Regions from separate parts of the Homo sapiens genome. Here regions 2, 3 and 4 are each reported to be linked to region 1. The links are microRNA targets in miRTarBase. Many come from high-throughput screens and were not tested one by one. Region 1 holds a microRNA gene; each other region holds the end of a gene's coding sequence.

Region 1 (7,896 bases):
GATTTCAACATTATCCTTTGCTGTACAAATCAGTGGAAGTGTCCACATTACTGTCTCCAACATAGCACAAGGAAAGTGATTCCCCTCCCAGACAAGAGGTTTCTGACACTTGTCTTTATTGCCCCATCATAAATTCATAAAGGGATGTCCGCTGTAACCAGTTGGCAAGTTCACTGCATAAACATCAACACCAATTTAATGACTGTGTACACATCGTAAACTAGAGAATCTTTATACAAAGAAATCAGATAAATCAAACATGAGCTGAGGCTAAGGAGAAAGCAATTAAAGCTTTAGGTTAAGGTGGCTGCGGGAGGGCACTGTGTCACGTTAGAGCAGAGAACAGAAAATGTGTTAATACAACTGCAGTATGTATAATTAAATTAATTAGTAATATAAAATGTGTTTAAAGCAACATCTCATCAACAGATTAATAGATAAGAAACTTTTAGAAGTTTTAATTTTCCCATTGTATGTGTTCAAAGAATAGGAAAAAAAAAACCCTCTGAAATTTCCTAAGGGGTTGATAAAAATAAAATTGCTGTGGTGGTGGGCTTGGGGGGGTGGGGGATGTAAAGTCGATTTACCTGCCTCTGGCTAGTAACAGGAAAAAGGAATAATCAGAACATAAAAACCTGTTTGGCCATATTTCATCTCCTTATAGCATATTGAAATGTTTTGGCGCCAACTCATCTCATTCTAATACCTCGAAGGCTGGTATAAAACACCTTTAAGGCACATTGTTTTCTGAGCAATTATTTAGAGTCAATGTCTAAGAAATGCTTAAGCATCACCTGGTAATACAAATTTTAAAGTTATATTTAAAACACCCAAGGAGGTTTTTACTGAACAAAAATTAGATTGCCTATATGCCAAAGCTCCTCATCAACTGAAAGCTGGAAGCTAAATTTGGCCGTAAGAAACTGGCTTGGAACTTCAGAAGTTCTGGGGCCAAATTCAGCCCTGTATTACTTGTATGCCTTGTTACATTAAAAAAAAAAAAAAAAAAAAAAAAAAAGGGCTGTTCCAGTGATAGCAAGCATTCCATTTATTCATCTCAAAAGCAATAAGATCCTAGAATGGAGCCTTCATAACACAAAATGCTTTTAAGTTTTCCCTGAGGGGAACACAATATACACAATTCATGTAAAAAGAAGAAAAATGAAAGCTAAGTATTTCAGTTAAGGGTCAGAAATCAATATTTCCTTAACAGCCTAAGCAACATGCATTACTCTTAATACAAATACTCAGAGACTTTACATTCTTCATAAAGGGAGATTTTCACATAATTGGGGTTGAAAGTGGCAGAATATGCTCTCCCAACTTAGTTTCTATTGCTGCAAAATGGAAAAGAATATATTTGGACAGCATTTCACTGATCCCTGTCATCCTCGGTTAAAACTTCTTACCTAAATGTCCAAGTGTGGAGCAACACGTAACTAAATTTTAATACATCTCAATGGAATATGATAAAGACATTGCAATATCAATAGGAGAACAATATAGTAACAGAAACTATAAATGTAAAACTAACTTTATTGAAGAAATGAGAATATGGTATTTTTCAGGTGGCAAAATTTTTTCATGATGTTCCGTTATGCTGTCAATAAAAAGTTTTAAAAAAGAAAAACTTCTGCCTGAGTAGCACAAAAGTAAGTTATGATAAGATGTAGTAGGAAGAGAATGAACCTTAAGAGATAAAGTGTAACTAAAAGGACTGAGTTTAAAAAAACAAACATCCTGACTAGCTGGTGAGCATTAACATTAGTCCTCCTTCTGTTCTCCAGAATGGAGCCAGAGTGATCCCTGCAAAGGACCCGTGTGATTTTGTCACTCTACTGCTTGGCATGCTTCAGTGGCTTTCCATTATTTTCAGGCTGAAGACGAAAATGTTTATCATGGCCTTCAAGGTACCCAATGATCTGGTCTCGAACTCCTGACCTCAAGTGATCCGCCCACCTTGGCCTCCCAAAGTGCTGGGATTACAGGTGTGAGCCACCGCACCTGGCCAATAGAAACTATTTTTAAAAATTCATTTATGTGTCTTATGCCTTTTAAAATATTTTTTGTCCTGTTTTCTCCTTCTTTCAATAGTGTACTCTGATATGATTCAAAGGAACCCCAGGGACCAACACCTCTCCTGGTTTCCAAAAGACCTTAATTTTACTACAGTTTAAGATTCAAGTGTATAACAAATTCTTTTTTTCTAAAGCAGAATTTAGAGGAATCAGTTGTGACAATTCATAGAGATACACTTTTTTTTTTCTGTGCATGAAAAGCAGTAAAGCCCCGACTCCTGATTTTGAAACCAATTTCTCATATCAAAAGTCTACACATCTGTTGAAACTGCCTCTATTGCTTAGGACTAAGAAACAATTTCTTTGTATGGGCTGACTGAACAACTATCTTTTAAATCTCTTAAGTATGTACTAGAATTAGTCTGTGTTTGCATAGACATCTTTTACTTGTCGATATACACCAACACAGCTGTGGAAGAAAGACTAAGCTTTAGTTTCCACTTGGCCATCGGAAACTAAAGTCACTTAATCTCTCTAAGCCTCAGTTTGCTCATCTATAAAATAGGACAATAATACCTGCTTTACAGGTATTTGGGAGGATTAAGTAAGAAAATGATAGAATCATGCTGGATAAGCTGTAGAGCATTTACAAATAGAAAACATAATCAAGATTCCACTTAGCTTGAGGATTCAGACACAGAGTTTTGCAGAGTGGCCAAGTCACAAAAGGGCTCTTCAAAGGCTTCTACTCTCTGGTGTGACACTGGCACAACACCTATTGCCCCGGTAGAAAGACCTTTATTTCAAAATGTTTCACTAGGAAACAGTTAAAAGCTGTTCTTTGGTTAAGCGCACTGACTCTTATTTGGATGCTGCTGCCTCTTTAAAGCTTAGATCTGCATTCTTCTAATGGAGAAAAGGAGAGTAGGCATAAAACTATAGAATAAAGAGCCTGGAACTTAGTAGGTGTTATAAAACATTGGTTTAAAAAAGAAAACATGAGTGAATAAACCCAAAGCGTTCATCTATTTTAAATTATCCGAATTGCCATGGTAAAATACAAGTTGTAATTAGAAGAATCAGGTTTGGTGCTTTGCACATAATAAGAGTTGAAAAAATAAAGAGGATGACTGGAGTAATGACGTTCAAATAAGAAGTTAAAATATTAACACTAAAAAACTGTAACTGAACTTTTAATTAAAAAAACCCTAAAAACTAATGACATTGTTTTCTTCTTATTTAAAAAAAAAAGCCAGTATTCCACTTGAAATGTTCGTGAGATATACAAATCCACTGATTTCCAAAATTAACCTTATGATATTTAAAGATGATATATGCCTTGTTGTCTATGGATACCTGCCAGAACTTGTACTTACGTATTTCTAAACACTTAATTCAGCAATATTTCACATCAATTTCCCCCTCGATTTTTCTAGCTATCATGCCTTGAGAGCAGTTCCTATCTTTGACCTTGAAAACTCTCAATAAAAATCAGTCACATTTCCATTTCCTAGAAATTCGAAGAGTGTCACCAAACTTTCAGGTACAGATAAATTCTTGTCTGGTTATCCTGTATTGTGAAATGCCAGCTCTTCATTATTTCAGAACATTCTATATCAGGGCTGATATTGAATCTATAATTTTGTGTTTTAAAACACCAAACATCATAGTGAAATTCAAAAAATGAATTTCAGAATTCTGAGTGTTCATATTTCAAGCTCCTACATAGTTCGTTTATTTTTTCTTTCCATCGAGCCACAGAAGTTGACCCCAGTAAGACCATTAAGTCCACTGATTTCATTAGTAATATTTTTGTTCACACTCCAAAAATCAAATTGTTCATATTCCAAAAATTAAATAATTTGGTTTATCAACATTTCAATGATTTTCCATATTCTCCCAAATTATTTGAGAGCTATGACATACCACGTTAACATTTACATATGAAAAACAGAAGCAAAAAAGCAATTTTCCTAATAGAAGGCATTTAATCACGTTGAAATAAGATCTTACCTTACAGGGCTGCCCCTCAGCCCACCTTATACTTTCTGGATGTTTAAGTCTGTGGCTTTGACTTACATGGGTTAACGTCCTCTGTAAGCTAAATCCAGTATCAGATGGATATGGCATGAGGAACCAGCCAGCATGAGGAACCAGGTCCTACTGTTAAATCTGCGTGCCATGTTCAGTTGAGAACAAAACAGTCTTTCCCTAGTCTCTGGTTTCTCTGGCGTTTTGGGGTGAGAAAATAACTGAGTTTAGGATAGACACACTCATCAGAATTGTTCTTGAAACCCTTTGCATTTCAATCAGTGCAAAATGCTTTTTAAATATTCCTGCTAACACGTGCCCAAGAGAGAAGAGTCGGTCTCATATTTTCCCAAAGATCAAAATATCAAGAGATGGGAAATCCCTCCATAGAAAACCTTATTATCAAGGCTAAGGCAAGCACCTGGGGAATTAATAGCTGACATACCTCATTTTAAACACCTACCATATGTTCATGGAAAATATAGCCACGTTACTTATCACTTTCTGTTTTCCTTTCATTGGTTTATGTTTTGCCTTGAATAAAAACTGCATGAAAACATAGTCTTATGTTACCAGGTATGTATCTCCTCCGTGGAATAGCTCAATAACATTTTTAGTGTTTTATTTATGCAAGCAAAAATGCTCCTCAAATCAGTGCAGCTTGAACTGCTTGAAGAATGCTTTTTGAATTCCAGAATACTGAAGTTTTTTCTAACATCACTCAGGTACAGATACTTCCCAAAAGGCCTGTGACTGCCTTTTCCCCTTTTTGTTTTTTAAATCCCATATCTGTGTTTCAGTTTTCTTTAAATTTATTCATAGTAGAATCATGAAACTTCTTAAGGCCAGGCGGTGGGTTTATAAAAAATAAGGGTTTTTTTTTTTTTTTCAGAGTTCCATGAATTTACTGAACGTCTACCATGTGCTAAGCGCTCCTCACATACACCTGCATCAATTTTTCCCTTCTTGACAACAGTCTGAGAAGGTAAGTGATGTGCTTAGGTCACAAAGCTAGTGAGTGGTGGAGCTGGGAATCTAACGAGGTTTTGGTTTTTGTTTTTACTTCCAACTGTTTGTTGTTTTGGCTGGCACACAATAGACGATGTTCATGTGCACAGCCACTCCCAGGGTGAGTCCAAGGTGAGATGACATTAAGAAAGCAAATGTGTAGGCAGGAGGAATAATTTCAAGAGATCTATCGTACAGCATGGTGACTACAGTCAAAAACAATGTATCGTATACTTGAAAATTGCTGAGAGCAAATTTTAAGAATTATCACCACAATAAAAATAAAGTATGTGAGGGAATGCATATATTAATTGGTGGGTTTAGCCATTCCACAATGTATATGTATTTCAAAACATGATGTACACTGTAAATATATACAATTTTTATTTGTCAATTACAAAATAAACAATTTTTTAAAGTTTCTACCAACACTTTATAAGTAAGGGAAATTAAAAGGAAAAGACAAGTAATTATAAAGAGTTTTATTTTATTTTTTTTTGAGACAGAGTCTCGCTCTGTCACCCAGGCTGGAGTGCAGTGGCGCGATCTCGGCTCCCTGCAACCTCCGCCTCTCGGGTTCAAGCAACTCTCCTGCCTCATCCTCCCACATAGCTGGGATTACAGGCGGCCACCACCATGCCCAGCTAATTTTTTGTATTTTTAGTAGAGACGGGGTTTCACCATGTTGGCCAGGCTGGTCTCGAACTCCTGACCTTGTGATTCACCCGCCTTGGCCTCCCAAAGTGCTGGGATTACAGGCGTGAGCCACCGCGCCTGGCCTATAAAGAGATTTTTTTAAAAAGAAAGCAAATGGAAATGTAAGTGGGTAAGAGTGGCTTCTTCTGGGCAGAACTATATCCATATGTATATTATATTATATTATTATATGTATATAATTATATTATTATATGTATACTTATACATATATATCATTGGAAACATCAGTTCTTAAATACTATGACACACCACAACTGACAGAGACTGAAGGCACAGGTGCTATATCTCTGTGCCTAGGAACCTAGACAAATAGCAGCAGATCTAAGGGTTGATACTGAATTGCTTATACATTTGCAGAAAAAAATTAACAGATTAATAGAAAATGATCATTTTTGTTTGTTTTCTAATATGATCAATGGAGACATGCAATTCAATATTTACTATCCACCTACTATGGGCAAGGACTGTAAAGAGGAGTAAAACACAATCCCTGCCTTCGAAAACTTAAAAACTCAAATAGGGGCCAGGCGCAGGGGCTCACGCCTGTAATCCCAGCACTTTGGGATGCCAAGGCAGGCGGATCACCTGAAGTCGGGAGTTCGAGACCAGCCTGACCAACATGGAGAAACCCCATCTCTACTAAAAATACAAAAAAATTAGCTGGGCATGGTGGCGCATGCCTCTAATCCCAGCTACTCAGGAGGCTGAGGCAGGAGAATCGTTTGAACCTGGGAGGTGGAGGTTGCAGTGAGCCACGATTGTGGGATTGCACTCCAGCCTGGACAACAAGAGCAAAACTCCATCTCAAAAAACAAAACAAAACAAAACAAAAAATTCAGGGGAGGTGTGGTAAGTGTATATATATATAACAATTCAATAATAAAATTTTAGAACCAAAATTCAGTTGAGGAAAAACACACTTTTCAAGAATGTTTTATATACTTATTTAAAACCAGGCTTCTCATAGCATCAATATTAAAGAAAAGGATTTAAATCAAATCCATGAAATACATAGCAAGAAATGAGACACACTGAAACACAAACTTAAAAAAAATCTTGTTGATTGGAAGGAATGGGGAAGTAAAGTAGCAAAGTGTTGAATAGCATAGTTTTTGACATCAAAGAGAATCAAGTTCAAGCTCCCAGTTGAATTTACTATTCATGTGATCTTGGGTGAGTCCAGGGATCATCACCTACTAGAAGGAATAATAATGCCTACAGCACAGAGTTGTCATATTAAAGAAGATAATTCCTGTAGTAAAGTATTTAATAGCATAGTGCCCAACACACAGTCAACTAATAATATTAATAAATATCAATAAATATTAACTTAGCCACAAAAGGTCCAATGTGTTAGTTAAACTACAACAGCTGACACAGAAAGCAGGAGCCTTTTATTTACAGAACTCCCTATCTCTAATTCCTAAAGATAAAACTTAGAAAAGGCTGGTTGATCTTTATCTTCTTGAGTGTTTTCTCTCAATAAGGGCTGTAGTGATCACAGGCCACCACACAGTGAAGGGCATTCAGCATCAAAAGTGTAACCAGAGGAGAGCCCAGGCAAACAACCTGAATTCCACTCCATTTACTGCTTGCTGAGCAACTACTATACACAAAATACCCTGCTTAGGATCTAAAATTACCCAATTGAAAACTTTCCTTGCTAGCCCTCTAGAAAGGCACATGTTCTACAAGGACATAACTTTAACCTGTGACAAGTTTTGATAAGCAGTTATTTTCTGGTGAAACCATGGATTAAATGTACCTCCTCTGCATTTGGTAAGATGATACATTATAAACAAAAATTTCTTAACAATTAATCCATGTTTCTTCTCAACAATACAAATTTGTTTCTGGTCTTCAGGCCAATTAATTTCCTTGGCATTTACAACAACAACAATAACAATAAGGATTAACCTTTTGTTAAGTGCACAGTATGTGCCAGAGACTGTGTGTTAGGTGATTTACATTTTTGCTAATCCCTAGAGCAATTTACAGATGCAGAATCTGAGATGTTAAATGACCTGCCTGAGGTAACACTGTCAGTAGTAGCAGAATCCAGATGAATTGAATGCAGGCCAGCCTGGCTCCAGGATCTGTGCTCTTATCGCTGTACCACACT
Region 2 (7,896 bases), not on the chromosome of region 1:
TCATGTATCATTTTAAGTTTTCTGGTAGTCACAATTAAAACGTTAAAAGAAACCGGTGAGATTAATTATTTTATTCGGTTCAAAATATCCAGCCAGGCATGGGCCCATGCCTGTAATCTTAGCACTTTGGAAGGCCGAGGCAGGGGGATCACATGAGCCCAGGAGTTTGAGAACAGCATGGACAACACAGTGAGACCCTGTCTCTACTAAAAATACAAAAATTAGCCAGGCATGCTGTGCCTATAGTCTCAGCTACTTAGGAAGCTAGGATCGTGTCACTGCACTCTACTCTGGGTGACACAGCAAGACCCTGTCTTAAAAAAGTAAAAAATCCTGCTGGGCGTGGTGGCTCATGCCTGTAATCCCAGCACTTTGGGAGGGCAGATCACTTGAGGTCAGGAGTTCAAGACCAGCCTGGCCAACATGGTGAAACCCTGTCTCTACTAAAAATACAAAAATTAGCCAGATGTGTTGGCGCGTGCATAATCCCAGCTACTTGGGAGGCTGAGACAGGAGAATTCCTTGAACGGGGGAGGTGGATGTTGCAGTGAGCTGAGATCGCACCACTGCACTCCAGCCTAGAAAACAGAGGGAGACTGTCTCAAAAAAGAAAAAAAAATCCAAATGTTATCTTTTGAACATGTAATCAATATAAAAAAGTTACCCATGAGATTTTTTTTGTAACTCCACAATTTATTTTATTTCTTCTAAAAAAAAAAAAGGGATACGTGTGAAGATTTATTACATAGATATATGTTGTACGTGTGCCAGGGTGGTTTGCTGCACCTATTGTCCCATCCTCTAAGTTCCCTCCCCTCACCCCCACCTCCCAACAGGCCCTGGTGTGTGTTGTTCCCCTCCCTGTGTCCATGTGTTCTCATTGTTCAACTCCCACTTATGAGTGAGAACATGTGGTGTTTAGTTTTCTGTTCCTTTGTTAGTTTGCTGAGAATGATGGCTTCCAGCTTCATCCATGTCCCTGCAAAGGACATGATCTCATTCCTTTTTCCCATGAGATATTTTTACATCCTCTTTTTGTCCTAAGTCTTCGGAATCTGCATTTACACTGACAGCACATTTTAAGTGGTTCACAGCAAGTGCCTTGTGGCAGTGTCTCCTGTGTTGGACAGGCCTCCACGGGGCAGGAGCTGTGTTTCTGCACTGGCATTTCCTGCCTATACAGAAACACACAGCACCCTCTGCTGATTTTGGGGACTGTGGCCTTCAGGTCAGTCTTGCAGTCTGTTTTGTTTTGCTTCCCCTGGACATGTCTGCCTCCCCACAGGACTGTGGTCTGGAGCTCAATGATGAAGATGGCCACCGCTGTTATCCGCTGGAGGACCACCTGTTCTGTCACTCCTGCCACGTGAAGAGGCTGGAGAAGAGACCCTCATCTACAGCCCTTCACCAGCACCACTTCTAGCCAGAGCCACTTGCAGACATCACGGCAGGGGATGAGGAGCCGGGGTTGCTGCTGCTGCTTCCGGTGGCCCCTGGGGTGGAAGTGGGGTAGGGGAAGAGGAGGGGCAGGAGGGAGAGTTCCTGTGAGCATGTGGGGGGTGCCTTTCCTTTAACCAGGGAGGTGAACACTACCTGCCTCCTGCGTGTATTTTCCAAGTGCTTTTCTCTGTTGCCACATTTTCCTCAGGTTACTCAGGAAAATGCTCCAGCATGTGCGAGCACATGACCTGAGGTTGCATCATAGCACCAAAGGAATCCTCCTGTCCCCTCTGGGAACATTTCATGCTTCAGAGGGAGAGGTTTTTATTGAGCTTGTTTCACAATATCCCCTTGAAGGGACAGCTCAGCTGCCAATACATTCAACCCTTTCTCTTCCTTCAGGAAAATACCTATACCCAAATGTTCCCTCCCCCGACATATATCATGGCATGATTTAAGGCTTCTTTTCACCTGAGAGCTTCAGTTCTTCTGCAGAATGGCTGCAAATTTAATTGCATTAAGGCAAGAAGGAAGCTCTAATGTGTGCTTTGTATCCTAAGATAAATTTGCTTAGAAAACCAGAGTCAAGATTTGAAATAGGTGAGGCAGGGTTTCCTCCTTAGACACTGACAGCATTCTCTGTACCCCTTCAAATCCTTACTCTCCTAAAGGCAGCTGAGTCCGCGACAGAAATTTGCCCTATGTGAGTAAAACATACTTTGGGAGAAGAACTTGGTGCAGGCACCAGGATTTTTTTTTTTGCCCACGTGTTTGCGCTGTTTTTCTCTGGAGTTCTCAAGAGTTGGTGACTTGGAAGGCCGCTTCTGCAAGGCAAGTCTCAGGAACCCATGCAGGTACATCGCTTGCACCTGTTTTTAGCTTATTTAATGACGGGCTTTTGGGAAGAGCTGCCCGCATACTGAGAGACAGCTTCTTATAAACAAGGAGAGTTTTTGTGTGTGCGAGATCTCTAAGCCAGCGTGGGAGGGAGCGCCTCAGGATAAGTTATTATATTCATTTCGTTGGTTTCTCTCCTGCCCAATTCTTGGCACAGGCATTATGTTTGAAGAAACCAGGATAAGGTACACTGCTTTTGTCTGTTTAATTTTTTTAGTTGTTTCCCTTCACTTTCAGTCTTCCACACACAAAAAATACCTCACAGAGCTTCACCAAATCACAGATTCAGGAGGAATTTGGCTTTCACACTGGACTCAGATACCTTCTTCAGTGTGTTGGAAATCACTGGCTTCACACAGGCCCAACTCCAGCTGGTCAGGGCAGAGTGATCGTAACTAAAGGTCAGTGGGGAATAGATCCGATTCAGTGCTTTTGCCTTATGCATTTCAGCATCCTGGCTCCCCAGGGTGGCAGGAGCTGAGGGAGGGCCACACACTGGCAAGATTTCAAGACCACTCTCTGCACTGAAGAGGTAAAATTTGCACTGCAAGTCACATCCCTGAGGCCAGAGGTCAGTACCCTTTGGTATTTCGATTAGAAGAAGCTGCAAAAGAAAGGCAGCCCATTTTACCATTGCCAGCCAGGCCGGGGACACAGGAGCCGGTGTGTGCACTCTGCCTCCTCACCTTGCACCCAGAGCAAGAGGACTGGGTGCTGGGCTGCAGAGGCCGGTCAGTGGAGCCCCTAGCACGTGTGAACTCAGGCTTTTCATTGGGCCCGGCTCCACTTCTAGGCCATGTTTTGACTCATTTGGTAACCATTGCCTGTAAGCAGCACAGAATTGGTGCCATGGATTATCTTTTCCATGTTGATGGAATTCATTCTGTTGGAATCCTTTGGCCAGATGTCACTTCAGCCAGGGTGTGCATCATCATTGGTTCTTTTTCACAGGCTGAGCCTCCTGAAAACCCATGAACGCTGGGGCTGGGGAAGTGAACCCTGAGGTGGGGACCCTCTCTTCCCATCAAATCATCCAGCTCAGTGTGGGGCGTGGCAGGGGGGTAAATGAAGCCAGCCAATGTGTTAACCTGTCTCTGTCAACCTAAGAATGTTGGCCTTACTGACACACCTTTGCTCCATGTTCAAGACCAGAAGTAGCTGGGATTTGTTTGCAAATTGGGTAATTAGTTTAAAAATCTGTGATTACATTTTTAAATGAAATTTTCAAAGTGGCCTAGATTGAGGTGATTCAGATAGGTTTGCGAATATACCATTTTATATTGTTGAGAAAGAACAAAAAGGGAATTTCCAGATGTCCTAGAAATCCTAGCAACAGATTTCTCTGGTTGTCAGTTTCCCTGGAGAAGGCGCCAGATAGGAATCTCCAATCAGTTGTTTTTCTCTTCGCTTCAGGCCCTTACACAAAAGCCATGAAGAGATGTTCACCTACCCGGTATTTTAAATGTTCTGTAAATTATTAGCCAAATAGAACTGTAATGGGGTTGTATTTATGGGCGCCTAGAAAGAAAACACAAGGACTTGGTAGGCCAGGAAGAAAAGATTTTAAAATTTAGAATGAATAGCCCTTCTGGGTTTTCTTTTTGACAATTCTTGGACTTGAGGTAAAACAAGGAGGATTGTGGCCGGATTTCAGATCCCAAAGCCAGCCTCCATCTTAGGCCTTTGCCTCATTGTGCCTTTTAGGTTTTCTTACCCACCGTCTCCTGTTTTGTCTTTTTTTTCTTTTCTCCTACCCCTATCTTGGGACATTCAGAAACTGCCTGGGTGGTTTGAGAAGAGACAACCCAGTTTGATCTGCAATACAAGGATCCATTCGTAATCTCTCTCTCACTGATGTTATTCCCCCATCTGCCGTCTTGGTTCATCTCACCACAGAAGGGCATTTAGTCCTACCCAGCCATCGGCTGCGTATGACAGCAGGATGGCACTTCCCATTTCTCTGTGGTTAGTGCTCGAGTGAAAACCTCTTTCAGCTGAGTCCTCTGAGGTTCTGCTGTTGAGTCCTGGGTGGCTGATGGAATGATTGAGGAGGTCTGGTCACCCTCAAGCGCCGTCATCGCCTTGTTTCCATGGGCTTCTGTCACACAAAATGAAGAACAGAAATGTTAGGACTTAAGAGAATGTTTGGAATTCACACCTCTTTGCAGTCCTTTCAAGGCTGCTGCTCTGTGCTGTGTCCCATGCATGTGAAAGTAGAGCTGTGATGGCTGCTGGGACGCTTGCAAAGATCATGTGTGAGAATTGAGCACAAGACCACAAATTATTACTGCTTGATGCGCTTGTTAAAACTCTATCTGCCAGGAAACCAAATTTTCTTTTCTTTTCTTTTTTTTTTTGAGACAGGGCCTCACTCTGTTGCCCAGGCTGGAGTGCAGTGGCGCGATCTCAGCTCACTGCAGCCTCCACCTACTGGGCTCAAGTGATCCTCCCACCTCAGCCTCCCGAGTAGCCGGGACCACAGGCGTGTATGACTGGCTACGCCTGGCTAATTTTTGTATTTTTAATAGAGACGAGTTTCACCATGTTGCCCAGGATGGTCTGGAACTCCTGGGCTCAAGTGATCTGCCCACTTCCGCCTCCCAAAGTGTTGGGATTATGGCCATTAGCCACTGTACCTGGCACAATTTTTTTTTGTACCCTCCTTTATGCCAAGAATCAGTCCTAATTTCTTTACTATGTGAAGTAACTTTTAAAGGTAATAGAAAAGGCCAGGCACAGTGGCTCATGCCTGTAATCCCAGGCGCCGTGGCTCACGCCTGTAATCCCAGCACTTTGAGAGGCTGAGGCGGGTGGATCACTTAAGGTCAGGAGTTAGAGACCAGCCTGACCAACATGGTGAAACACTGTCTCTACTAAAAATACAAAATTAGCTGGGTTTGGTGGCGCACGCCTGTAATCCCAGCTACCTGAGAGGTTGAGGCAGGAGAATCGCTTGAACCTGGGAGGCAGAGGTTGCAGTGAGCCGAGATGGTGCCATTGCACTCCGACCTGGGCAACAGAGCGAAACACTGTCTCAAAAAAAAAAAAAAAAGTAACAGAAAAAAGAGTGAAATATATTAGCTATCTTTTATTCTGAGCCAAAACTTGACAGATGTGGGAAATCTTCATATAGTGTATGAAAATTTCATTGTACAGGGAAATTATTTTCCTCTGTGTCTTTTCTTTTACTATAAAGTGATTCAGAATTTTACTGTTACTATAAAATTATGCAAAGTATTGTGACAAAACTGCATCAATTTGTTGACTATTAAAGTGCTCCTTGAACATTATATTTCCTGGGTCTTTTCTGTGTGTGGAGTCAGCAAACTGTTTTTTGCTACCTGGACTTTGTCTTCTTTTACAGCTCTGGATTCTTAAAAGTACCACATAGGTAGCAAACCTGTGAAGGGTATGAGATTTTACCCTACTTGCAGGCTAATAAAGTGAGCACACCACATGGGTTCATGGATCCTGGCAGAAGTTATGAGACTCATAGGTCAGAGACAAAGGACAGTTTATTATAGCAATAGCAGTGGCCAGATTATCAGCATTTACACTGGTTCCCTGAGCCCCAGGCCCCAAGAAGAGGGCCAGGTGAGACCTGCACACGCAGTGGGCTGCATTACAAGAGGAACCCCCATGCTTAGGGGACCCTGGTATTTGATAATGGGCAGTAAGCCTGCCTGACTTTTGCTCCAGAGACAGACACTATCTCTGTCATCCAAGACTGTTCACTAGATAAACATCCTTGAAAATATAAGTCTGGAACCTGGCAATTGGTGTCTATTCTTACCAGATGTATAAAAATGTGAGAGGCCTTGGAGAATCATATCCCAAGAATCAGCAGTTTCTTTTACTGGACCTTTAAGATTGAGACTTGTAAGGTCCTGATGCAGTGACTTGTAAGGTCACTTTGTCTCTCTTGTGAATGTTACTGTTTTTTCTCTTCTGAGGTTATGACCAAAGAATCCTCAAGGCGAGTGATCCTTCAGGTTTGAGACAGCCACATGCAGGAAGACAGGACTTGTAGAGTGTTGGGGCCAAGTGTGTGGTTAGAATCCTTGGGGTGGGGAAAGAGTTTGTTCTAGACTCCAGTGTAGTCCTTGTGGCTACCAGGTCTGACGTGCCAAGGACACGGGAAAGCTGGGAGTGAGGATACTCATAGTCATAGCACCTTACACCAGAATAAAAGTTTTTTTTTTCTTTTTAAGTGATGAGAGAATGGCTAGTCTGATTTTGCCAACATGGGCTGCTATTTGCTTAAGACCTTGATGGTATAAGGAGTGAAGATGCAATCAGGGTAAAAGGCGGTCTGGAGTTGTGGTGTGCTGGCAAACCAGCCCTCTGGGGCAAAAAATTAAAAAGCCTTGATATGGAGTGTTTGCTGATACCTATGATGTAAATATTCCCGCCATGGCCACTTTCCAGCTACCAGCAAGGCATCCTGGCACCAGGGATTGGGAGGAGATGGCATAGTCCTAAGAGTCAGCCTTGGGCATTGGGCCATGTGGGACTGGGCAGTGGGGTATCTGGTCTGGTTCTAAGTGCTGTGATGAAGCAGTAGCAGCTGTAATAGCTGGCATTTCCCGTGTGCTCATCACATAGCAGATGTTATTCCAAGGACTGTATGTTCTTTATCATCCCTCATTTGATAGACAAGACAACTGAGACACAAAAGGGTGAAATAAACAGTAAGTACTCCATCCCAGGCCATCTCATCCAGAGGGTGCTGTCTTGACCACTCTACTACTCTGGTTGATGGGAGGCAGTAAATTGTCCATCAGTATACTTCTTCATCAAAGCTACATAGTCAAAAAGCCACAGGAGGCTGTGAGGAGAAGCTCACTGCTGCTCTGTTGAAGTCTGTATTGGTTTCCTATGGCCACTCTTAACAAATTACCACAACCTCAGTGGCTTAAAACAACACAAATATATCATTCTGTCATCCTGGACACGAGCCAAAGGTTGTCGGCAGAAGCGAATTGCTTCCAGAGGTGCTATAGGGTGCTGCCCATTCCTTGCCCCTTTTCCGCTTCTAGAGGCTGCCCATTTTCCTTGGCTTGTGGCTGCATCATTCTGGCTGCTTCTATTGTCACACCTCCTCTCTGACCCTCCCTGCCTCCTTGTAAGGACACTTGGGATTACGCCCATCCAGATAATCTAGAATAATCTCCCATTTTGTGATTCTTAATAACATCTGCAAAGCCTCTTTTACCTTGCAGAATAAGATATTCACAGGTTCTGGTGAGGAGGACAGGGACATCTCTGAAGGGGAGGGAAGCAGGAGATAGGGTCTGGAGGCATGGAATTGGCTTCCTAAGGCCAATTCAGGCTGACTTCCTAGAACTAAGTCAAAAGGAAAACCCCAACTTTCCACGCTCAAGTAACAAAAGGACCAGAGGCTACTCCCTTTGCAACCTCCCCACCCCCAGCCCCTTTTCTGCATGGCAGGTGAAAAATTGAAAGTATCGCTAATTGATCCCCTCCCACAACCAATCAGACTGGTCTTAGGCCAAGTCTTCATTTGCCTAGGAGTATAACTTTGTAACTTCAGCCTCT
Region 3 (7,896 bases), not on the chromosome of region 1:
TGATACTGAATATTATCATTTAAAATTTAAGAATATTTAAGAGTGGAATTGAGGCCTTTAGTTTGAGAAAACTTAATTCATTCTGCCAGAGTTTCATATTTTTCATTTATTAGATGATTTAAGACTTTATATACTTTAAAGCAAAATTTGGCAAATCCCTTATTACTAGTATTCGTCTTTAGAATTTGGCCGGGCACAGTGGCTCACACCTGTAGTCCCAGCACTTTGGGAGGCTGAGGCTGGCGAATTACCAGAGGTCAGAGGTTCGAGACCTGCCTAGCCAACGTGGTGAAACCCTGTCTCTACTAAAAATACAAAAATTAGCCGGGTGTGGTGGCATGCGCCTGTAATCCCAGCTACTCGGGAGGCTGAAGCATGAGAATCGCTTGAACCTGGTAAGTAGAGGTTGGAGTGAGTCAAGATCGTGCCACTGCACTCCAGCCTGTGCAACAAGAGCGAAACTCTATCTCAAAAAAAAAAAAAAAGAATTTACTCTCATTAAAACCAAACAAATGTAAACCCAACCAATACTTTTTAAAAATAATATTTCATAGACATCTTGTGGTCTGAGTGATAACATTGAATATTTCCAGTTAGAGGGCTATGGGTTGGTTATCTAGCGTGGTATTAATGAATTTAAAGTTATAGATACTATGTTAGTGTTGAACAAGAAAAAATTTTCTAGCTTTTAACCTGAGCCAATCACGTCAAAAATGATTTGTTAGATACCAAAGTACTTGTTCCTACTATTATTTTTGTATATGAAGAACTGGCTTTGGATTTAACTGAAAACTTAGGAAAACAATCTAATCGCTGTTGTCTATATCATTGATTTAATTCATCAAAGTTACTCAAATGATTGATATTTTTACTTGCTAATTATTTTAGGAGTGATTTTGTGAAATTTATTTTTAATACAGTCCTAGAATTGAATTGAAATATGGTTTGGAAGTTTGAGGGTTTTTTACTGTGTCTATCCTTGTGTGTCTGTTTCCTTTAAAGATTCATGATACAATCACTGTGTACAATGTGTCCTTTAATATTGGTTCCTGTAATAATGTGCCTTCAAATTATTTCTTGAGTTTTGTGACTTAAATATGCAGTTCACTGACTCACGCCAATGTTGTTTGCTTTTTACCTTAATTCTTTTTACTGTGCTCTCTCAGTTTTATTTTTTGGAAGAATGGTACTCAGTGCTTTGATTTGATTAGTAAGATTTTTGAAACACATGTAATTTATTTCAGAAATGTGATTGTTTTAACTCTGACTTTTTTAGTGCAGTCATTGGAGAAATCGATGAAGAAACAGATTCTGCGCTTGATTTGGGGAATATTCGAGCAGAACCTTTAAATTCTGTAGCACACTGAGGAAAAACTACATACTTGGACATCTGTAAATCTTTGTACAGAAACTGATTATTCTGAGGATGATATATGGAGTTTTTATGAGTGTGTCACTGGATTTTGACTCCTTATTGATTCATTGTAATATGTAAATTAAAATATTTCTACATTTTATTGAAAAAAAAACCTTTTTTTTTGCCTAAATATAAGTTTGGTAGCTTGGTTTCTTTTTTTTATTAAATAGTGTGAAAATATAATGGGCATTTTGAAAACTTTTAGAAAAAAGTAGTACTTTTTGATACTTTAGTATTTATGGAAACTAGTGGAAAAGAGAAATTAGTGTGCTATATAAATCAGGCATTCAAGTAACAGTAATACAGGATATATGTGTTTTCTTTCCCTGATGTTTAGGAAAATCACAGGAGGGTAAATCTTTGCTGGAGTTATCTGAATCATTGGCATTTATCCGATTCCACTGGTGGTAGTTTGCTAGTGCTTCTAAAAGTTGCTCCCTAGCACTGAGAGGTGTGGGTAGGTAAAAATGTGTTTGCTTGAGAAAAGCAAAAATGCTAACAAGGTTTTGATAGATTGGCCCAAAATTCTAACTTGAATATTAAGAATGACTAGGAATGGTAGAATTGACAGAGATGATTAGTAAAGTCTCTTGATGCCCAATTGGTTAGGTATGAAAGTAATATGAACACATTAATGTTGAATTTTACAGACAGTATATTTGAAAAAAATTGATTCCATGTAGTCTTCAATTTTTAATTTTTAAGAATTGGAGAATTTCTAATGTTAAAGTTAGTTTATAAATGTGAGTAAATAAACTCTAAGTTTGTATTGAAGTAGTGCTAGCTATTATTGTCAGCAATTTTCCATGATTCATTATCCATAAACCTGATTTCAGAAGACGTCAACTCAGTTTTTTAAATAATTGAAAGAAACAATGTAAGTAGTGTTTAGATATTCAGGCTAGTCCATAAAATTTCTGATCAACTCATGTATAGGCCCAAGTGTGTGTCTTTGTGATGAGAAGAACATAGAAAAATATTTACATCCTTGTAATTGAAACAAATTTAAATAGTTTATTTGTTTTGTTTTTATGAAAGTGCTTAAAAATAGTAGTTGGCAAGCTTTTTCTATGAAGATCCAGATAGTCTTTTAGGCTTTGAAGGCCATGTGGTCTGTCACAGCTACTCACCTCTGCTATTGTGGCCTACAAATAACCATAGATAATACATAAATGAATAGTGGCTGTCTTCCAGTAAAACTTCATTTATAAAAATGGAGGTGGGGGTTGGATTGGGCTTGAAGGCATAGTTGCTGACCCTTGGCTTAATACAAGTTCAATAAGAAAAAATGAACAATTTGTATAAATTCTGGAATAGATCCTTATAGAGAGTTTAGAGGTGGGTTTCATTCATATTTTAAAATATTTTAAACTTCATACTTATTAAACATAATAGCTTTTTGGGGGAGGAAAATATCTTCACTCAAATCAGCCTTATAAGGGGAGAAGCACTATTCTCTAGAATTATTTGGTTGATGTTAAGGGCTGTCTCTGGGAGAATTAGAGAAGTTAGCTAGTATTGGCTATTCATAAGTACTTGACTTGTAGTATAATGTTTTATAATCAATTTATTAATAAAATGATGGAAAGTGGGTAAGGCAAACAGGCAAATTTAGGGACTGTGAATGAAATATTGTAGTATATGGCATTTTGAATTGGTAAAGTAATTCCAAAAATTAAATAAGAATACACATTGTTCAGTTGCTAAGAAAAATGCATTCTAACAGTACAAATGAAGTCCAGAGTCAGATCTTTTCTCAAAATACTTGGCATATCAACACATTACACATAAACAAATAAAAACCAGTCCTGTCCCTCATGATAATGGGTTTCTAATGTGATGTATTCTTGCAATCTGAAACACCTTATAAAGCTGTATTTTCCTGATTGATGTTGGAAAAAGCATTCCCAAAATGTGAATTATTGTTTTTATGAATAGTTACAGAGGATGTGATGACAATATGCCAGATAATCTATGTAATTCTTTATTCCTGGATACAAGCACATGGTGGACTGTTTTCTCACAACCGATTAAAATTGGATTTATTTTTGCATGAGAATTGTAAGGGAGCCACAACCATGAGTAGTAACATAATTAATATACAGTGTCAATATTTTATATTTAATGAGACATTTATTCTATAATCAGTTCTTATTTATAAAGAGGCGCAAATCAATTTCAACCTGTAATTACCTCTGTGCTTTGTGACTCAGGCACAATCTAAACCCAGCTTAATGAATCAAAGAGATGTTTCTTGGCAAGATATTTTCATTAAAGTTATTTGGAAAGGGCAATTAACTGCAAAAGGGACTTTTTTTTTTTTAACTGACAAGATACTATCTAAACTAATAGTTTAAAATAACATTGCTTTTATGTCAAAGCACTTTGGTAACTTGGCCTCACATGCTGACAGTTTTGGCTAAATATTACAAATCTTGATCCCAGAAGAGCAAGAGAGAAAGTTTTACTAATATTTGCTTAAACATCCTGTTTAACAACTTTATAACATCCTTCGGAATTTTTAAGGTAATAATGTGAGATATAAGTATGATAAAAACAACTTTTAAATGGTATTTAATGCAAATACAGAATAACGATGTCAACATTTTCCTCAGCCGTGTAACCTGAGATTCATCATGGGAATGAGAAAGTAAAGGCCCTTTGTAATGGCATGTGAACCAGACAATTTAGTAGCCAGGGTTGTAAGGCAACTCTTAACTGACAATATAGTTAGTATATTCTGGGCCTTCATCTTCAAAATTAGTAGGTAGTATTTATTGAGTGCATATCATGTGCCAGGCCTGGTGCTGAGTGCTTACAATGATCATTTTATATATGGGAAAATTGAGGCTCAGCAGGGTCAAGTGACTTGTAAGAGGTAGCACTAGTAAGTAACAGTGCTCAAATTCAACTAGGTCTTTCAGCTTTTTATACAATACTGCCTGTTATCAGAAAGTATAGTCTTAAAATCTGCTATCAAGCATCTATCAGAAGCCTGATGAGAAATATTCAGATGATCTAACGCAGTTCCCAAACCTGCATTGTGGGCCGTTTTCATTACAATTACCTAAGGTGCTTTAAAAATTTTCTTGGGCCCTACTCGTTGTGGTTCAGCAGCTGTGTAATGGAGCAAAAAGGAATAGTCACTAAACAGCGAAGGAAAGTGGTGGAATTATTAAAAGACCTAGCACTTACCTGCTGGGATGAGTCTCTAACCCCACAGAATTGATTTCAAACACAGGATCTTATTCAAGATAAGGATAATAACAGCTATCTTCTTGGGTTGTAAAAAGTAGCATTAGACTGCATTTTAAACATTTGGTATGATTTTGAGGACATAACCGTAAACAGCTATTTAATACTATTCCAGGTAGTCAAAGGCCAATGTATAAAAGTTAAAAATATAGGTCTTGTCAGCTTTTTAAGCGTCTGTCCCACTGACTACCATATCTCTACAAGAGAATAGATGAGGAATTGAGGTTATGTGGGAAGTACGTGTAAGTTTACAGTATTAAGAAATGTACAATAAAATTTGTTTCTATGTCAGCGAATATTCTTGACTCAAGGAGTTTGAAAGTGTAAACTCAAAGGTCTTTCACATGTAAAGAGGAACCTCTCCATTCTGTACTTGTATAGTCATTACCTCATATAGATTTAATTTTATTAAATTAAATTTTACTTATTTTGGGTTTAAAAAAACTTGGGCTGTGAATCTCAGTTTTAAGTCATGGGCAAATTTGATAAAAATTCCTTTCTGTCTACATGTAATACTGAAAAAAATGTTGATAAGGTAAAGCTATCTCCATTTAGATTGATACCCATTAAATAGCATAGTGCTCCCATTAAACTAGCGACAAATTCATTTAATTGTGAGATATCTAGTACTTATGCTCCATCCTGTTTATAGGGATTATTGATGTGAGATTTGGTCAGATGCTTTGATGTGATCTTCATTCCTCTGTATAGTGGGAAACCATGAGACGTGCTTAGTCTTCATAAATCGATGCTGCCTCCTAGTGGCCATTGCTTTCTTTTCTACCTGTCCACAAACTTCAAAAAAATAGATTTTGGAATTTTGTCAGGGACACTTATCAAGCCATTAATACATGCCAGGCAGTATGCTCAAAGCTGTGGATAGGCCAGGGAACAGTATTCTTGTGCTTGTGAAGCTTCTATCTGTCTGTATCTACCTCAACCAAATCATCTTGACTCAGATTTACTGTCGAAGGTCGTGTTATTTCATCAGATTCTTTCAGTATTCTGGGATATAATTTATGGGTTCTGGATTCATTCAAAACAACTAGAAACAGTCTTTTTAAAATAAATATAATTCAAGTCAATTATTTTCCCCATCTATTTTTTTTCTTTTAAGATTGCTAAGTCTGTAGGTTGCATAATTCTAAGGATAAAGGCGAAATAGGACTTCACCAGGAGAATTTCTTTCATTAGTTAACAGTATGCCATCTCCTACTTACTGGCATCATCTGGGGAATGAAGGAGCTGAGAATTGTTCTTCCAGATACCTTTCCGACCTCTTCTTGGTTTTGGCATTAAGTTTTTTTTTAACTCAATTTTTGTGTTAGTTTTTTGTTATGCCTTTTCATTTCCTTCTTTTTTTAATGTTTCTTTTTTTTTAAGTCCTTTAATTTTTATTTATTTATTTATTTATTTATTTATTTATTTATTTATTTATTTTTGAGACACTTCTTGCTCTTTCGCCAGGCTGGAGTGCAGTGGTGCAATCTTGGCTCACTACAACCTCCGCATCCTGGGTTCAAGCGATTCCCCTGCCTTAGCCTCCCGAGTAGCTGGGACTACAGGCACGCGCCACCACACCTGGCTAATTTTTTTGTTTTAGTAGAGACGGGGTTTCACCATGTTGGCCAGGATGGTCTTGATCTCCTGACCTCGTGATCTGCCCACTTCGGCGTCCCAAAGTGCTGGAATTACAGGCATGAACCACCACGCCCAGCCTAAGTCCTTTTATTTTACAGAGTATTACTTGTTAGAAATGGCACAGATCAAGCATTGCTACAACTGGTATCAAATTCCCATCAATGTCCCTACAAGGATATGATACGCTTTCTCTCTTCTCTTTAGGGTAATGTTCAATTACACTGCATATATTTTGCTATTATGTAGGTTTTTTTTTTTTTTCCACATATACTGGCTTTACAAATGCCATATAATTAGTATGGTACCAAATTGTTATTACATTTGAAATACGTTAAAAAGAATCCAGGAGTCAGGGTGGGTGGGGAGACAACTCCAGGGACACAATACATTGTGTCTTGTATTAAAAACTAGTGTGTGTTGGGGTGGGGAACAGGCAGGAAACTAATATGTTTCTGTTTGATATATGAAAATATGCACAAGCTATCATGTTTCATCTCATATCAACAAAATGATTATAATAAATCATACTCTAGAAAACTCATTAACTGATACAAGTTGCCAGAAAATGCTGCACTATGGCTTATTTCACATTTTAAAATAAATGCCCTGAAAGTGATCACAATGATAGTTAAAAGTTAAATTTTTTATTTTAAAATTTAAATTTTTATTTTAAAAAATAGCTCTCTGAATCTGACTTGGATAAGCTTTATTTTAATTGTGATTCTGCTAATTACAGAGACACTTCAATTCACACTCATAGGAGGTATGATTTTTAAAAGGAAATTGTTGATTAGGGTCTTGGGCTAGTCCAGTGTAGCATGGCAGTGAAAGGCACAGACTCTGGAGTCATACTTAGTTTGCAGAGCTTAGCATATTAATCTTACCATGTCTTAGTTGCTATGAAAATGAGTACCTGCTTCCTTGTACTGTCAAGATTAAGATAAGCAGTTAGCACTCCCTAGAACATACTAATTTGTCAATATTAATGATAGCTAACAATTATCCTGATATTGAATGATGGACTCCAAATTATTTATTGTGGCCTAGGAAAAGTACTAAGAAGTAATTGATAGCATTCCCTGATAATTTTGGTGAAAAGAAAAACTATGAAAATTCTGGACAGGACTGGAAATTTATTGTAAATGAAAGTATGCTTCCCTGGTGCAAAGGTAATGTGATGTTTTTAATCACATATTTTAAAATTAAAAATTTGATCAAATTTTTAAAAGTAACACGAGGCAGAGAAAGTACAGAAAGGAGCAACCAGAGTCAAAGTGATTAAGTTATAAAAAGGTTAGATTTCTTTGGTGTGAAAAGATAAATGAGAAATGAGAATATGCCAGAGATCTGAAATGAAGAATGGATAAGAGCTTGCATATTTAATTTTGTATATTAAAACCAAATATTCTATGAAGATTGGAAGGATAATTTTAGGTCAAATGAAATTCTACATTAAAGAAAGAAGAATAAACCTTAACAACTCATTAGTAATCCTTCATTTCCTGAGTATTTACTGCATGACAGTAACAGAGATGACATGCCCGGTAAACTGGTGTTTGAAGGCAATATATAAAAGCTTCCCA
Region 4 (7,896 bases), not on the chromosome of region 1:
CCCAGTGCATGTGAGCTTCTCTCGGGTAGAAGGGTGGAATCGTTGGGTCATAGGGCATGTGTATCTTTATCTTCATTCTCTGCCGTCATATTTGGGGGAAAGCCTTTCTTCACTTTTTCTAATTTTAACTTCTGTGCTTTTGTTCCTGTTTTCCTATCACTGTGTTCATCAGTCTTCTTCCTGTGCTCCTCTAACACTCTCAGTACTGATTCTAGCTTCTAGTCCTGCATATCCCCTTCCTTCTATAGTTAAGAATGGTTTCTTCTAAGGAATAGTATTTTTTTCATATATTACTCTAGTAGGAAATGTATTTTGAGAGTTCTTCTCTTTTAAATATACTGACAATGTAAAGCACATATTTGATTGATGGGGAGGGCCAGGGGACAGACACTCTAGGATGGGAATTAAGACTGTGGGCTTTGAGTCAGACCAAATCCACAAGCTGCCACTTGCTACATATCCTTGGGCAAGTTATTTAACTTGTGTTTTAGTTTCCTTATCTGAAAAAAAAATGGGGATAATAATTATACCCATTTATAGGGTTACAAGTGGGTATAGGAGTGTGCACTAAATGAAACAATCTACAACTTTGATTATAAGAGGTTTATACATTTGGTCTTCAGGCAGGAAGAGGAAAGACAGGCAGCATTGAGAATGCCTTCAGGTTGTGTAGTGAGGATACCTACTATGAGTTTCCATCTAGTGTTTATACTAAGTCTAAACTCTGTCCACTCCTCTTTGTGGAGTGGCTGGCTAGCGCAGGCATGTGAGATGCTGCCTGTGGCCACAGAATACACAGTGAAATGAATTGGCCCATTTAGGAATGAAACCCACAATCCTGGCTTCATGCACTACTCAAATGAGTCCAGTGGCCAAAATGACATAAAAAGGGAGAATATAAATGGGCTTAGAAATGCTGTCAACGTAAACAGGAAGGCAAGAGGACACAACAGGATAACTCAAATTAACAAGCTGCTCTAAACAGCATCCTCTCTTTGTGCAATTTATTGTACAGGAGAGTTGACTGGAACAGAAACTATTCCTAATCATTATAATTTTCCTTATCCTGCAGGCTTTCCGTGTATAACTTCAGACTCTGTCACTTACACTTCTTGGTTTTAGGAGAGTTTTCCAAAGCCAGATACTTAATTACAGGTGCAGCACTCCAAGGCCAATACCTCATTACCTAATTAGGGAGTTGGGAAGTGTTTATCATAATCACGCTCAAGATCTTAATGTTCGTTTTAACTTGTCTTCCTCTTTGTGAAGACATTGATTTTTGGACTCTGAGTCTCTTACTCCCATATAAAACTGTCTAAATCCAAAACGGCTTTTGAGGAAGCAGCATTTCCAACTTGACATTAACGGTTGGGCTGAATGTTGCCTCTTATAGAGGCAACAATGCCCACTGGATTTTAACTTCTCAGTTCCTGAACCACTAATAAGTTATTTCAGTTACATTTAATAAATCCTCCTTATGCTTCTTTTCAAATAATTCTTGGAAAATTGTGTTTGAATATATTGCAGAAGATGGGGGAAAGGTGAAAGAGAAATTAACAGTCATCCTGAATGATTATCAAGTGACGTGGTATAACAATATTTGCTAACTCCATGTCAACATAGCAAGGCCAGATGGCTTAGTTTTGTTTCAGTAACATATATCATGTGGTAATAGATTGATAAAGGGTTGATTTGTATAATTACTTTTAGACCTTGACTTCAGAAGTAAGCAAGGTTGTTATCAAGAAAAAAACAACCCAGCTCTTAACATATTCATTTGAATTGATAACTGGCACAAACCCATGAAGGGGATACAAGGTGGCAGGACTATTTGCAGGAGCAGATACCAGCTTCTAATAAAAGCATACCACATTCCTTAAGTTCCTGTAAATTGGAAACTAGGGTCCCTAATAGCATCAGTGGCAGCATAAATTCAATGCTTAGATGACAGCTGAAACCCCAATGTTGGATTTATACACCCAAATATCAAGCTAACTTTCAGGGCTGGTATTTTCACACTGATGTGAGAATGACAAGTTTTATTGGCATCAAAAACAGAGTAGCCTGGGGAAGAATCTCATCAAGTGAGAGCAAAGAATCTAGAGTCTTCATTATACTTCAATGAAATGTTTGAATCTTCTTTTGTATCCTACTACTAACAGACAGCAACATGGCTTGTTTTGAACTTTACCTATTTTATTTGTCTGCTCATAAGCAAGAGAGCACAATAGCCCAACAAGCAAGTACGAGTTGGCTCTTGGCTCTAAAGACCAGCAGCTGCAGCTTCCTCTCTAAAGGTGATCACATCTTAAACAATGTAGCAGAGCTGGGGGCAGCAGTCAGGAAATGGGAGGGTGGGCTTTGTGTGAGCAAAGGCTTTGGTTTGTTTAAGAGTTCAGGATATAGATTTGAAGATTATGGTCTCTTTGAACAGTGGCTACAGGCCACATATGAAATAATCTCCGTAATTTTCATGTGTACCTGGCGAGACAAAGTCATGAATTTCAAACTTGATTTTTCCCCACAGACCTACTTGCTCCTTTTGAAAAGTGCTGGGACTGGGAGGTCCAGGCAACATTCATGCTTTTGTTGTTTTTTTTTTAATTACCAGTTGATTCTGATTTGTGAAGACCTTTGCAGACTGCAGCTGTTAGTGGAAAGGGAACAGGAATGAGCTGAACTTTTATGTCCATGTATCGAATATAGATAATAACTCTTGCCCTCCATACTTAACAGCTAACAGCAACTGTTTAATAAAACATTAGGTATTATGTGCCAGGCACTGTCCTAAGAGCTTTACATGTAATAACCACAAAAATCCTTTTTTTTTTTTTTTTTTAGACGGAGTCTCGCTCTGTCATCAGGCTGGAGTGCAGTGGCACAATCTCGGCTCACTGCAACCACTTGACTCCCTGGTTCAAGCGATTCTCCTGCCTCAGCCTCCCGAGTGGCTGGGATTACAGGCGTGAACCACCAAGCCCAGCTAATTTTTGTATTTTTAGTAGAGATGGGGTTTCACCATGTTGGCCAGGGTGGTCTCAATTGCCTGACCTTGTGATCTGCCCGCCTCGGCCTCCCAAAGTGCTGGGATTACAGGCATAAGCCACTGTGTCCGGCCCCACATAATTCCATTTTAAGGTAGGAAACTCATTCACAGAAGGGTTAAGTAACTTGTCCACGGACACAGTTAGGGCTTGGATTTAAAGCTAGACAGTGTGGCACTAGGGATCATGTTTTCAACCATTATTTATAACCTTATAAGGAATATAATAAAAACATGTATCCAAAAAGTATTTTACTTTGAGAAGTTAAAAGTTCTAAGCAGCTGCTGAATTAAGTTCCTGGAGGAAAAGTAGGCTTCTAGACAGTACTTGCTACATAATAGCTGATTACAAACAACTTTACTCAAAGGACTTGAAATCTGATCTTTGCTGTTTCTCTCAAATGCTGACTCTGGCCTACTGAAGTATTAAAGTGACTCCTTTGGCAACTGAAAATAAAGAAAGGAACTCTTTGCAGACCAGGTGCCTCACACACAGGGCTTGGCACCCAGGTGATATGTAAATGTTGGCTGACTTAAACGCCTTCCAATCAAAGGCATTTTGAAATGTGCTATTCATATTTCACAAAATGGCTTGAATATAAACTATTCAGAATGTCAAAACAAAGGGGCATGTGGCAAGTTAAGGAAATTAAAGAGAAATGGAGTACAAATGGAATATTAAACCTTTTACATTCAAAGTGAAGAACCTGGTTGCATACCCTAAAAATCCTCTTTCCTGGCTTAGCAAGGGATGAACTTTGGGGATCAAGTAAGCCTATTCTTTAATAACACAATATCTCTCATTTGTGATGTATATGCTTGCTGCAGGCATACCAATATAAACAAGCTGCTTAATATGCTCAGGTGATTTCTTTTTTAAAGGCTGAATTTATCTTATATCATTTCTTAACAACCCCTACACTTTTTAGCTTGCACTCAAACACAGCTCAGAAATAAAACAGGTTTTGCTACCACTTTAGGGAACAAAATGGTTAACTTATAACAAGCTGGGGTCGTATTCCAGGCATCAAAGCATTAAACTTAACTCAAGTCCAACAAAATGTGTTCAGCCTGCCTATAACTTCCAACCAATATCTAAAGAACTGATGCATAATCCAATTTTTTTACCATAATCCCTGAGAATTTTATGAGTAATGGGTTAATTGGTAATGTGGCATGATCCAAACCTAGGGCAGGCAAAGAATTCCCTGTGAAGACCTGTGTGAGAAGCAATGAGATCTACTGCAAGAGCTCAACTGGGCCTACATTTAGCCCTTTATGGAATTATGAAGCAGAAACCACTTGTGTTGAATTGCCATAGGGAGGAAATTAACTCAGTTTTTCTAGTACAATGTTTTCACTCAGTCTGTCTTCTGACACACATTTGTAAAATGTTGCCCACACTATCTTAGTTGTGGAATTTATTTTTCTCTGTTAGACTACTTGGCCTTTGCTTTAAGAGCAATGTAAAAGGAACTAGGGACTAGGAAAAGCAGAAAAACAGACTTAAGAGCAGTAGTGTGTTGGCTATGACAGGCTCTCAAAAAGCATTTGTTGAACCCACACACTACCTATGTTATGAACATGGCCATAGGCTAATTTCAAGATGGGAGTTAAAGCTGTTTTAAGCTGTTAGGGCTGGGGATGGGGATAATGGGCTGACCCTCAACACAAGAGTAGCTACACATGGTCTTGATCCAACATCAGTTAAATGTGCAGTCCAGATGAAGAGACATTTGAAGACACTAATCAGTCATCCTCACAAAATTTAATTAAGGGCCCGTGTTGAAACAGCCAAAAGCAAACTCTAATACGGGATCCTAGCAATAGTGCTTGGAATGTATTCAAATGGAAAAGTTTGTGCTGGAAATACTTGTTTAGAAAAAGAACTACATCACTCCACCCTGCTTTATCAAGTAATCCAAGCCATCTTAAATGCTCAAAGTCTGATCCAAGCAAGATGTTTTTTATTAAAAGCTCTTTCAGCTTGAAATAGATTATAACTTTGGGAATAAACATTTTAATGAACAAGTAGAAGGGATTCTTGACTACTATAGTTCTTTTTTGTAGACTGCTTCTAGGTAATGCAAAAAGCTCAGAAAAGGACATCAGATAAGGTAAAAGGCTTTATTATTCAGGATCAGCTCAAAGTCTGACATGGACACAGGCAGGGATAATTATCTCATTACAGTTGACCTTTGGCACCCATTTAAAAGTACTAGCTTTCCAAGTGAGACATGTTATACCCAGTAGACTCGGTATAATTTCTGACAGCCAAATGTATCCCAATTTCACTCAGTAGGGCTGCCAGGAGATGGGTAGGGATACAAACAAAATCATCTACTTTATCAATCTTTTTTTTTTCATGGATTTTTTTCCCCCATTGGCTTTCAAAGCAAGTGAGATAAACAGCGTTACTGGCAGATATTGGTCATAAATAACATCTTCCCAAAGCCCAACAGTCAAAAAACAAACACCAAATATAAGCAGATTAGGCAGATTTCCTAAATATTCAGTTAAGGCTATGGTGTGCTTGGTTTTGACCAGAGCAATTCTATGGCTTCCTTTTATTTTTCTCCCTGGATAAAACTATGCTTACTTGATCCATGCAATTTCAGTTGTTACAGCTTTAACTTATAAGATCAAAGGAATTAAAAAGTTGTCAGAATAGATTTTCAAATAATGACAAAAACTGACATAAAGTCTACACAGTCCTCAGGGATATGGATAAAACAAATGAAGTTTCATGACTGGAAGGGGGCTCCCTTCTAAGTAAATAGTACATAGAAAGTATGTAAAGCCTCTTTCCATGAGGTTACAAAGGTGAAAAATATAAAACAATGGTTCAAGATCACTGATACATAATTGTTGAATAAGGGGAGGGATGTTTAAGATATTTTGCACATTATTAACTTAGAGTCAGTCTATACACTCTCTGTATTAAATATCTAGAGAAAATTCTATTACTTTTTGGCTCAGGGCTATCTATACTAAAAGGCTATTGCTTTTTATGTACATGAAAAGAAACTCAAGATTTATGTTTCTGGTTCTGGATTTTCAGTTAAGAGCTATATTCTGTTACAAAAATATCAATAAGAAATCATCACTTTTTTCTTAAAATCTGATGACTTATTTTTTTTAAAACATTGCAGCCCCTAAAGAACTGATGACTGCACCTGAATTCAAACCCCAAATTGATTTCATAAAACATCTTCCTCTAGTAAATGGCAAAAATCATAACCTCCTGTAGAAAGTGATGTTGGGTTGGCTGACATAGCAGATTGCTTGGTGAAAACATGGGGACCTGAAATCTCATACGGGAGATATATTTGAGAGAAAAAAGACAAACACAGCTTTCTGTTGTTGTTCTCCTAGTTTCTCCGAAGAGTTGACATTTATCACTGCATTTAAAATAAAGATGACTTTAACTCAAGAGACTGCATTTTAACACTGAACTGATATAAATGTACTTATCTGAGCATCACATTTTTACACATACTTAAAAAAAACCCCACAAAAGCATAGTGAAAAGATTATGTATTTCAAATAAAATTATACATGTTGGAGGCAGAACAGAACCAGGGGTCTTCAGCAGAGGATTTCTCAGTCAGCCTTCACAGGCCTCATGCTGTGGCTGGCAGATACTTTCCACTGAGCATAGAAAGTTTCAGGATAACAAGAAACTTGTTTTTTGCCTCCATGAACTGGGATGTCATTATTATAGAGAAGATGAATAATTTAAAAAGTGAAGACTATTCATTCAAAATGCTAGAGTGACAAATTTACTTTATGAAATTTAAACACAGCATTCATCCTCGGGAAGCTGCATATACATTATGGTAGTAGAACCAGATTAGGTACATTTCAGCGTTGAAAAGATTTTGTCTAAAAATGAAAAGGCAGCTTTCTTAAAGACCAGAGTTATAGAGTCACTCTTGTATTTTTCATCTTGTTTTAGTGGACCAAAGCTCAGCTTGTTTTAGTGGACCAAAGCTCAGTAACTCACTCAGATTAGAATCTATAATTCTGTTGAGTGTTCAGGACCACAGAAGTCCTCCTGGGACTTTCTATGGAAGTATGTGCAGATTTTCCTCATGGAGCTGGGCGTGATGGTGACCTAGAAGAAGAAAGTTTAGATTTCAGAGATTTCCTTGAAGTTCAACTGTTACTAAGTTATTACTAAGGCATACCTTAAATTAGGCTGCCAGAAATTTCATTGTTTAGCCTGCTTTCAGCTCCAAATACTTTCAATGGCAATGTCTCTTTTGGCTGATTTGTACTGACTATAGTAAAAACTTAACAGATGATATGTAGGGAAAGAAGGCATAGACTTCTTATGTGAATAGAAAACATTTACTAGCTAAGTCTCCTAATAAGAAACAAATAAGTTACAATTACTATCCTTTTTGAAATAAATGAATAAATCAGCCCCCCCAATTTATAAACAAGATAGGTATTCAAATGGAAGATGTTACTCTCTTCTGAAGGTTGACATTATCATCATATAAAGGTAAAAAATTTTTAAGAAATGTTAGCTTCAAATAAATTACAAGACCAGCACACTGTTTCTACTTTTTAAAGATTTTAAGATTTATGTATCAGTGAAAATAGTTTTTCATTGAAACTACTTTTCTGCTAACACATAGCTGAGACCAGCTCCCTTGAAAAAAAAAATAGAAATTTTGGCTAGGGATAAAGAGCAGTCATAATTTTGAGAGAAGGAAAGATTCCTTATAACTGTCTTTTTTCTCCACTTTCTACAGCAAGGTCTTGATTGCAGTTTGTGTACTAAGTTGTCTTTAAAATCTATCAGTTTATTTTTCTAAAATTATGGGATAGGTCTTCATGAGAGC

Evidence for each region. The annotated mature microRNA hsa-miR-8063 reads UCAAAAUCAGGAGUCGGGGCUU and lies in region 1 at 2,285-2,306, opposite strand. An mRNA with a match to its seed (bases 2 to 7 or 8) in the 3' UTR can be bound and repressed. Matches are read on the target gene's strand: a 7mer-m8 pairs with bases 2 to 8, a 7mer-A1 pairs with bases 2 to 7 and ends in A, and an 8mer does both.
Region 2: the mRNA of LIMD1 is a reported target of hsa-miR-8063. Seed matches in the 3' UTR shown: 7mer-m8 at 6,570-6,576.
Region 3: the mRNA of LSM8 is a reported target of hsa-miR-8063. Seed matches in the 3' UTR shown: 8mer at 1,460-1,467, 7mer-A1 at 1,606-1,612, 7mer-A1 at 3,064-3,070, 8mer at 4,743-4,750 and 7mer-m8 at 5,481-5,487.
Region 4: the mRNA of DTL is a reported target of hsa-miR-8063. Seed matches in the 3' UTR shown: 7mer-A1 at 6,804-6,810 and 7mer-m8 at 5,375-5,381.

What each region holds. Positions count from the first base shown.
Region 1 is chr15:36,970,547-36,978,442 of GRCh38, forward strand. It overlaps MIR8063 (microRNA 8063), which reads right to left and starts at 2,355; the gene lies at 2,275-2,355. All of the region lies in intron 8 of MEIS2 (Meis homeobox 2), which reads right to left.
Region 2 is chr3:45,675,637-45,683,532 of GRCh38, forward strand. It overlaps LIMD1 (LIM domain containing 1), which reads left to right. Exons shown (of 8, transcript NM_014240.3): 8 at 1,286-7,896. The coding sequence ends at 1,423. It overlaps LIMD1-AS1 (LIMD1 antisense RNA 1), which reads right to left. Exons shown (of 3, transcript NR_033947.1): 2 at 3,410-4,435; 3 at 2,529-3,295. Among named protein-coding and RNA genes, the nearest start is that of LIMD1-AS1, 9.3 kb to the right of the region's middle.
Region 3 is chr7:118,190,636-118,198,531 of GRCh38, forward strand. It overlaps LSM8 (LSM8 homolog, U6 small nuclear RNA associated), which reads left to right. Exons shown (of 4, transcript NM_016200.5): 4 at 1,277-7,896. The coding sequence ends at 1,367. Among named protein-coding and RNA genes, the nearest start is that of LSM8, 10 kb to the left of the region's middle. RefSeq lists a silencer at 223-438 and an enhancer at 5,393-5,452.
Region 4 is chr1:212,102,106-212,110,001 of GRCh38, reverse strand. DTL (denticleless E3 ubiquitin protein ligase adapter) reads right to left here. Exons shown (of 15, transcript NM_016448.4): 15 at 4,989-7,160. The coding sequence ends at 7,062. Among named protein-coding and RNA genes, the nearest start is that of MIR3122, 28 kb to the right of the region's middle.